Linked DNA regions of Homo sapiens: region 1 is linked to region 2. Evidence: fine-mapped expression QTL. A gene starts in region 2. The other region holds a variant in brackets. All regions are shown on one strand. Distances are from middle to middle. Region 1 overlaps PENK-AS1 (PENK antisense RNA 1). Region 2 holds the start of PENK (proenkephalin).

What was found.
Region 1: its variant is fine-mapped to the expression of PENK in fibroblasts (GTEx, PIP above 0.99).

The regions. Positions count from the first base shown.
Region 1 is chr8:56,469,965-56,474,356 of GRCh38, forward strand. All of the region lies in intron 1 of PENK-AS1 (PENK antisense RNA 1), which reads left to right. Among named protein-coding and RNA genes, the nearest start is that of PENK, 26 kb to the left of the region's middle. The variant G/GGGC (reference allele first, on the strand shown) is at 2,064.
Region 2 is chr8:56,444,036-56,448,427 of GRCh38, forward strand. PENK (proenkephalin) reads right to left here and starts at 2,606. Exons shown (of 4, transcript NM_001135690.3): 1 at 2,534-2,606; 2 at 2,391-2,446; 3 at 1,781-1,921. The coding sequence starts at 1,918. PENK-AS1 (PENK antisense RNA 1) reads left to right here and starts at 1,772. Exons shown (of 4, transcript NR_125813.1): 1 at 1,772-2,465. RefSeq lists an enhancer at 1,377-2,268.

The DNA of each region.
Region 1 (4,392 bases), 26 kb after region 2:
CATTTGTAACATCAATGATAATTGTCTGTAGAATGTCTGAGCCAAGATGGCCTATGAAGCAAGAGAGAGACCTCAAACGTATTAACTGTTTCACACGCTTGAAAACAGACAATTTGTCTTTGACTTGTGAGAAAACCCCCAGCTATTACCGTGCCCATCAGCTTATGTAGAATGGGAAGGTCTAGCGCTACCTGCTTATAAACCCCAGCCAAAGGATTGAGGCCTCCGTCTGATAAGGCTTCATGTGCTTGTCAAATAAAAACGAATTCAGGCCGGGCGTGGTGGCTCATGCCTGTAGTCCCGGCATTGTGGGAGGCTGAGGCAAGAGGACTGCTTGAGCCCAGGAGTTCGGGCTGCAGTGAACTGTGTTTACACCACTGAGATCCAGGCTATGTGAGACAGCGAGACCCTGTCTCAATTAAAAAAAAAAAAAAAAAAGAATTTAGAAGCTGAGAACATAAATGGGCTTGCCTTTCTGTGCATATGTGTGCAAATGTTTGTGTGCATCTGAGTGTGTGTATGTCTGTGTGTGTGATGGGAATAAGGGATAAGATTATTTCCCCCCTCTTATTTAGTTAATGCCAGAAAAGTAAGAGAAAAATTGACTATGCCCGAATTATTTTTTACCTTTTATCTGGAGTATCTGCAATTGAAATACTTGAATGGGACATTCGTCTATATAACCATAGCTTATAGCAGTGGCTTTCCTACAAGAGTGCATTGACATTGACTGGGACACCTGTTAGATAAATGGGCAGATTCTTCAGCCCATGCCCAGGGGCTCTGATGCTGAGACCTGGAGGGGCCCCAGGGTTATGCACTGTGACAGGTCCCCCATATGATTCTCATGCAGTCGAACCATTAGATAGTACTTAGGAAAGGATTGTCTGCAGGAAGAAAACACACAAATGGATGTGGCCTCGACTAATGGCTTAATCTCAGGACCTTAGATCACGTGGCTAAATTGATTGTCCTGAGTGTAACTTTAAAAGTCACACATACAGGCCACACGTGGTGGCTCACACCTGTAATCCCAGCACTTTGGGAGGCTGAGGTGGGTGGATCACCTGAGGTCAGGAGTTTGAGACCAGCCTGACCAACATAGAGAAACCCCATCTCCACTGAAAATACAGTGTTAGCCGGGCATGGTGGTGCATGCCTGTAATCCCAGCTACTCGGGAGGCTGAGGCAGGACAATAGCTTGAACCTGGGAGGCAGAGGTTGCAGTGAGCTGAGATCGTGCCATTGCACTTCAGCCTGGGCAACAAGAGTGAAACTCTGTCACACACACACAAAAAACTCACACATACAGATACACATGCATCATACATGTACACTCCCCTAAATACATCTCATATCATACCCTCTACACCTCACATACCACACCCCAAATACACACCACACACACACACAGCCCACACATGCACACACCACACATGTACACACACACATGCTAAACCACACACATATCACACCATACACAAAGGGACACACACCATACACACACATCACACATACTCACCACATACACATCACACATACACTTACCCCACACATGCACATGCCACACATGCACACACACCACACTCATACACACATACACATCCTCCCCCCACTACACCACATATGTACCATTCCACACACATGCCATACTATGCATATACACATGGATGTGAGCCTTCCTTTTCATTTAAAATACAGGGAAAACACTGCTCTCTATCAAGCAGTGGTATTTTAGAGAGCAGAGGTCTTTTCCTCCAAGTCCGCTCTTGAAGTTCTTAAAAAGAAAGTGCAAGTCCCAGGAATGAGCTCATCTCTGTGTCCTTCCCAGAAGCCGCTTATTCATTGCTGCAGGACAGACTTTACTGTTATTATAATGAAAAGACAAGACAGACTACTCTAAATATCAGTTTAAAATGTTTCTTTTTAAAAACATTCCCACATGTACACGATCTTTTACTTGTTTCATGTTTACTCTGTTTTGGGTTAAGAAATCTGAATGATGTGATGTGTCGTGAGAATAGAAGTGAACAGGATGAAATCGCGTGAACAGGACAATGGGG[G/GGGC]GGTGGTGGTGGAGCCCTCCGCTTTGGGGCTCTGAGGCTTCGGATTGGAACCATCTGGTCCCTGGTCCTAGCTCTGCTACTTGTGGCCTTGGCTAAGGTAGTAACCTCTCCAAGCCTCCTCTACAAAGGGATCATCATCGTAGTACCTCACTCATGGAATTCTAAGGATTAAAATGGAAAGTGCTTACAATAGGGTGAGAAACATACTAAAGACTCTGTAAATGTTTGTTTCTGTTAATAAGCAGAATTATGCCTGGACGTGCTTAAGCTCCCAGACTTTTTCTACACTGCCCTCAGTTATCAATCTCCATTCTGACTACTTCTCAGTGACCAAGAGAAGAGAGGAAAGAGCTGGGAGAATAAGGCTGTGGGGAGGATGAGGCAGAGGGGATATGGGAGGATGAAGAAGCATTCTGGTGCGAGTGCATTGGGATCACTGAGTGTAGCCTGGTCCTCTCTCCTTCCCACCGCAGGACCTGATGATAGATCCCTGATAATTATGGTCTTTCTGGATGGGCCAGGTGGGCAATTTTATTCTTTGTAATCTTCAAAGGTACAAATGAATCAGTTTTATGACTTCTGCTTTACATCAAAATAAATTTCAGATGTCTCAAACATTGAGCAGCTTTGAACGTAACTTGTTTTCTTTTCCTGCATTCAGGAGCCATAAAGTCTAGCCAGGATAAGGCCTCAGACCCAGTTCTTTACAGCAGATATTGTGAAATAGTGACCAGTGCTTGGAACTCGGCCCACACATGGCTCATATAGTATGTTTTAAAGTTTTGAATTGGCTTCCATCATTTAAGAATAAGAGATCTTCCATAAAAATTGAGATTTTCGGCCTGGCGCAGTGGCTCATGCCTGTAATCCCAGCACTTTGGGAGGCCGAGGTGGACAGATCACCTGAGGTCAGGAGTTCAAGACCAGCCTGGCCAACATGGCGAAACCCCATCTCTACTAAAGATACAAAAAATTAGCTGGGCATGGCGACGCATGCCTGTAATCCCAGCTACTTGGGAGGCTGGGGCAGGAGAATTGCTTGAACCTGGGAGGCGGAGGTTGCAGTGAGCCGAGATGGTGCCACTGCACTCCAGCCTGGCTGACAGGGTGAGACTTGATCTCAAAAAAATAAAATAAAATAAAATATTAAAAAAAATTGAGATTTCCAGCTTATTTTGGGAATAAGAACTGGCTTCTGCCCAGGCGTTTGGATGCACAGATGGAGGCCGGATCGCAGGGGCCCTGGGAGGGGCATGGCTCCAGCAGCTCCTGCCCTCTGGTCCACGTGGCTTGCTGGACACATGCTAATCTACTTGGAGCCTTGCATTCTATTGCTGGCTCTAAAAGCTTTATGAAGTGACTGATCTAGAAGGACCATAAAATCTAGAGAAAGGACTTAATCTCTTTGGACTTAATCTCTTTGGACTCAGTTTACTCATTTATAAAATGAGCAAGGACCCTTGCAGTTCTAAAAATCTGCGTTTAGCTATGAACACTGCATTTAGCATGGGGCTGACATGTCAATGTCTAGCTTCACTATTAACCCTCATTTCCCTTCTGCTTCCCTGCCTTCATCTGCATGGACCAGACTACCACTCAGCCCTGAGAGGTCCAGAGCCAGCAAGGATAGGAGAAGCCGCCGTTGAACCCCAATGGTGGTCTCCACTTCACGCTCACTTCATAGTATTTTGGTTGTAGTATTTGATACTAAACTTATTTTTTTGTGCCTGGGAAAGAGTGGGTTCTCAGTAAATATCTATGGAGTCAGTAGATTAATTGGTAGCCAGGTTGGCTTTCCTACTTGCTGGGGCAAATCAGGGAGTGAGGGGCTACTGTTGTCAAGGTTAGATTTTCTCCCATACACCAAAAACCCCCACAATTATTGCACAGCAGATACTTAACAAAGTATAATGAACAAGCACGGATGAGATTGTTTCTCAGTAAGCTGAACTGCCAAACGAGTGAGAAAATGTAGTTTAAGACTGGGGTTCTCTGAAAAAAATACCTCTGCCCTCTCTAAAAGTTAAACTATAGTTTTGGTAGTTTGTGTGGTGCAAATGAAACATTTTATATATGTAAGAAGCAATGGAGCCAGCAAGGATAGGAGAAGCCTCTGTGCAGAGACAGCTGTGGTGGAAGAGTGACTCGAATGTTTAAGTATTATCAAGACTGCTGTGGTAGAAGAATGACATGAATTTTTAATTATTATAGCTTGTTCCTCTGTGAACTAAATGATGGATTCTAAGTGCATGGAAATGAGATACAAACCTGACCCTTAAACAACAGCCAATGGAATAGTGATAAATTTAAATGCCTCTTTTGTCCACTC
Region 2 (4,392 bases):
AGAGGGTGAGAGAGGGAGAGAAGTCAAGATTTGAGGTGATACCCAGGGAAGAGCTAGCTGCTACCCAGTGAGCTCTGCTCAAGTTCCTCAACAATGCAAAAGGAAGATTAGTAGCATTTTGGGAGCTTGGTGAATCAAATAGATTAAGTATGAAAAAAACCCATTTGAATAGGCATGATTAAAAGTCAGTCATATTAATTCGCTAACTCACATAATTTAAGTAAATATGATACTACTTTGGGGTCAGTCTGTGTGATTAGAAAAATTAGACTAGAATCCATATAACCTTTATTCAGATGGCAGAGAAAGCTAGGGGAGGGGGCTGAGCCCCTGACATGTTGAGCAGGCAAAGCTCAAAATATGTGTGACTGGGCACAGGGAATTATGGGGTCAGAAAGTGGAGTCTTCTATGTGGCATGTTTTGGATTTTTCTTCCTCCTTCTGTGTCTAAAATTCTTTATCCACAAGATCTATCCTTATATTTGTAGCACTGGCTCAATTTTTAGGCATAGGTTAAAAGCTCATGACTACAGGAGAAAGAAGAAAGATGGGTGAAGGGGATTGTTTCTCCTATTGAAGATGAAACATTTTTCTCATAGTTTAAATATACAACCTTCCTATGTGTCTTCTCTTTAATGCCAAGTTAGCACAGGTCAAAGAAACAAACATTTAACCTGAAATATATACCACAGATATTTGGAAACTGTTCCTTGGTTTTCTCCCCATTTCAAACATCTACATAAGGTAAAATTTCCTCAATTCCAGGTGGAACCCAAAGCAGCTTGGATGAATACATTATTCTCTATGAGCTTTTTAAGTCACCATAAAATTTCAACAAATTTCAAAAGCAATGCAAAGGAATTGTCAGGGGAGCTGGTAAAAGTGAAGCTACCTGAGTCTCGAGGTTGGAGATTCAGACTCAGTAGAGCACCAGAGGTGATTCGACAGCCCATGGGGAACCATGATCAGAATGAAAGTTATTTTGTCCTCAGCTTTTTCTTTCCCCAACCCCCTGTAGTGCAGTGTATCTTTGGACTGTTGTCACCCATTGGACACTGGCCACTTCTCTTGTTCCTTTCTCATAGCCAAATTAAACTGTTGTTTTAGTTACTATTACAAAGGGCAGTTGAAACAGAAGTTGAATTCCAGCATCACTGGCTAGTGAGACAGTTTGAACTCTTTCCTGTCTACGGTTATTTCGCCTTCCTCTCCCCGTACCCCTTTTCCATCCCTTTGCTCTCTCCTATTTACAGGTGAGGGTAGGGAATGAGGGACCTGAGGTTAAGAGAGCTGGGGAACATAAATCTAAAGAAAGGCACCGAAATGTCACTAACAAAAAATTACATTATTTGTGGGAAAGATGGGAAGATGACTGCGTGTGGAGGGGCCCTTAGCTGGGATATGTTAGGAGTTGTGGTGACAGCCATCTTCCTTCTGACAGCCCAGGAGAGAACCCAGTGCTATCCGAGGTGCTGAACAGAGGACTTCTCGGGGTTCCCGAATTCCCAGGGTTAAAACAAACTTGGTTTGTGCGGCGACACCGCTACCCTTACCGGTCCCCAGATAGTCGCGGATCCCCGAAGCTAAGAGCCAGGGCAGGACTTCAGTCAGTGTTCCAGGAACAGCTGAGACACCCAGGTCACCACGGGCTCGCGCCGCTGCGGCTCCGACCCGGTGCGAACCGCCATACGCGCCGCGCGGTGGGCCGGAGGCAGTCCGCGTACTGTTGCGGAAACTCTGTCTCACAAGGTGCGCAACACTCGCCGCGCGCAACACTCACCAGGAAGTTGATGTCGGCCGGGCGCACTAGGCGGTAGCTGCACGTCGCGCAATCCTGGCTGCATTCGGCCCGCACGGTCGCCAGGAGCCCGGGGCCGAGCAACAGCAGCCAAGTGCAAAGTGTCAGGAACCGCGCCATGGACTGCGAGGAGAGAGGGACGCGTGCTTCGAGCCTGCCTGGGCGCAGAACGGGGTCCCTCGGCAGGACCCTCGCCGCGACAGCCTCAGCAGGGGATCGTCGAGCAAAAGCCCGCAGGAATGCTCCTTTCTGGGGCCCCGCCCTCCCGGCCGACAGCTTTTAGGTAGACGTGGAGGCGACTCAGATCGCCTCGCGGTTCCCGGGATGGCGCGGTCGCCCCCAACGCGAGGCTGCCTGGGGCACCCGGCTCTTTTCCTGGGCGTCCGCGGCCCAGGGCAAGATTCCGGAGAGAACGCCGCAGACCAGGGGCGAGAGAGCGGGAGCCGGGGGAGGCAGGACATTGACTGGGGTCACAAAGAAGAACCAGGGAACGCTGTTGGGGAACCCATGCAATGAAATGTGAAGGGAAAGAGGGCGGGCAGACGTCCCCAAACCCGCTCAGCAAAGACAAGCTTCGGGCAAATTCACTCACGTTGACGCTGTTCGGATGGAGCAGGCCAATTGGAAAAGCCGGGTTCAGACACGACTCTAGAGGGAAGAGAAGAAGGCAAGTGTGAGGAGGGCGGGCGTCGGGGAGAAGCGGGCCCGGGTGTGCTGGCGGACGTAGGGCCTCACCGTCGCGGTCCTCAGCGTCTCTGCGGGGTCACGGGCCAGGCTGCGGGGCTCTGAGCGCCTGCCTCGCCGTCCCGGGGCTTAACGGCTGCTGGAGCCACTTTATAATTAGCCCCAAACCGAAGGAGGCGCGCGCGCCCCAATCGCCGGCGGGCTGCAGCTGACGCAGGCCCTACGCCAGCCCCGCGCCGACGCCTTCGCGGGAGGGGTCGGTCCCCCAGCACCCGCGCGCCGCTCCCCCCGCCGAGCTCGGGTGGGGGCCACAGGGGGCGCTCGGTGGCTCCCCACACGGCCAGGTGACAAACCCAAGGCAGTTAGGAAGTTTGGGGAGAGTGAGATAGGATCAAGTTTCTCCGCATAAAGTCACTGAAATTGCACCGTGGGATGCGGGCTCCAGGGAGGGAAGCGAGGTGGGGGCGTTTGGAAGGATAGATGGACTGGCTTAGACTTCTGGAATGTGCTGGAGACCCAGCGGGCCGGTGAACCTGCCCCTTTCCCGCCTCCTCCCTGGGCCCCCTCGCGGGTCCCCGTGGGCACCAAGCACAGCCGTCCGGAATGTCGTCATTTATTGACCAACCTGTCCCCCACACTTGACTCCGAGTTCCTTACTGCAGCATCTAACAGCGTCAAGGTGCGCAGTTTAGGCGCTCAATTAATGGTTACAGGAACTGAACGATTGAAAGTTTCTGGGAATCTTAAAATCTCAGGACAGAATTTTCACCTTTCCAGTTAGAGACCCTTGGCCAAGCGTAGAAGCAGGTAAACCCTCAGGTTCCGGGACTGCGCGCTTTTCAGCCACTGTGGGAGAGGATCCGTGTTTAACCAGCTCCCCGGGGCTCCCAAGTCGAAGACCTACTGCCTTGAGAGCGCTGTCCAGGGTGTCCGGGGGTGTTGGATCAGTGAGAGGGGGGTGCCGGGGCGGGTGTAATGTCAGCGCGCCAGGAGTGTGGTGGGGAGGGAGGGATGAGGGACACCCTACCCGGGACGCCGGGGCTTGGAACCTCTTCTCCACCGGGAGGGGGCCGAGGGCACACTGTGGAGGCTGGTACTGTCCATTAAGACACGCTTTCCCGCTTCCTGGCTCTGCAAAAGATTGCTAAGCGGCAAGCTGCTTACATTGCCTGAGGCCTCAGTTTCCCTATTTGAAAAATAGGAACAGAGGTAATATGCCATTCATAAGGTTCTGGAGAGAATCAAATGAAATAGTGGACGAAATCTCTTAGCCTTGTGCCTGGCACTATAGCAAGCCCTCAAAACATCTTCTAACCATCCGTCATCCGTCCGTCCACCTTTCCATCTGTGACCATTGTCTGCTTACCTTATAGCTACCATCGATGTATCCAATCCACCTATGCATCTATGTCTCCTAGACCTAGGGGGAAACCATAAACAGTTCCTGGGAAAAGGTCCCAGAGGTTTCCAGGCCCTCTGCGCCCTCTGCAAAGGGCTGATTTCTACAGTCGCTAGGACCTGCAGCGGCGCTGCTCCCGCGGGGCTCCGGCCGCGCTGCATGTCCCATTATAGTCGCTAGAGGGCAGCGCTCTCCTGCGTAGGCTGGGCTTGCGGGGACTGGGGTCTCAGTTCTCCGCAGGCCTCAATGTGCGGGCTTGACACGCAGCCCTCGGATTAGCCCCGAAGCTGCACCCGAGCACCGCCTGCCTCCCGGCCGGGGCATCACGGTAGCAAGGTCGGGAAAGCAGAGCCCTGGAGTGGGGCTGGAGAACCCCGGACATAGCCCTAGGGAGCCAGCATTACCCTCTGAGCAGGAAAACACAATGTTTCCCGCTTTAGGTTCTTTTCATCATGGGGCCCCTTACTAGCTCCTTACTCTCTCCCCAAGGCAAAGGAGAGCTTTTGTCTTT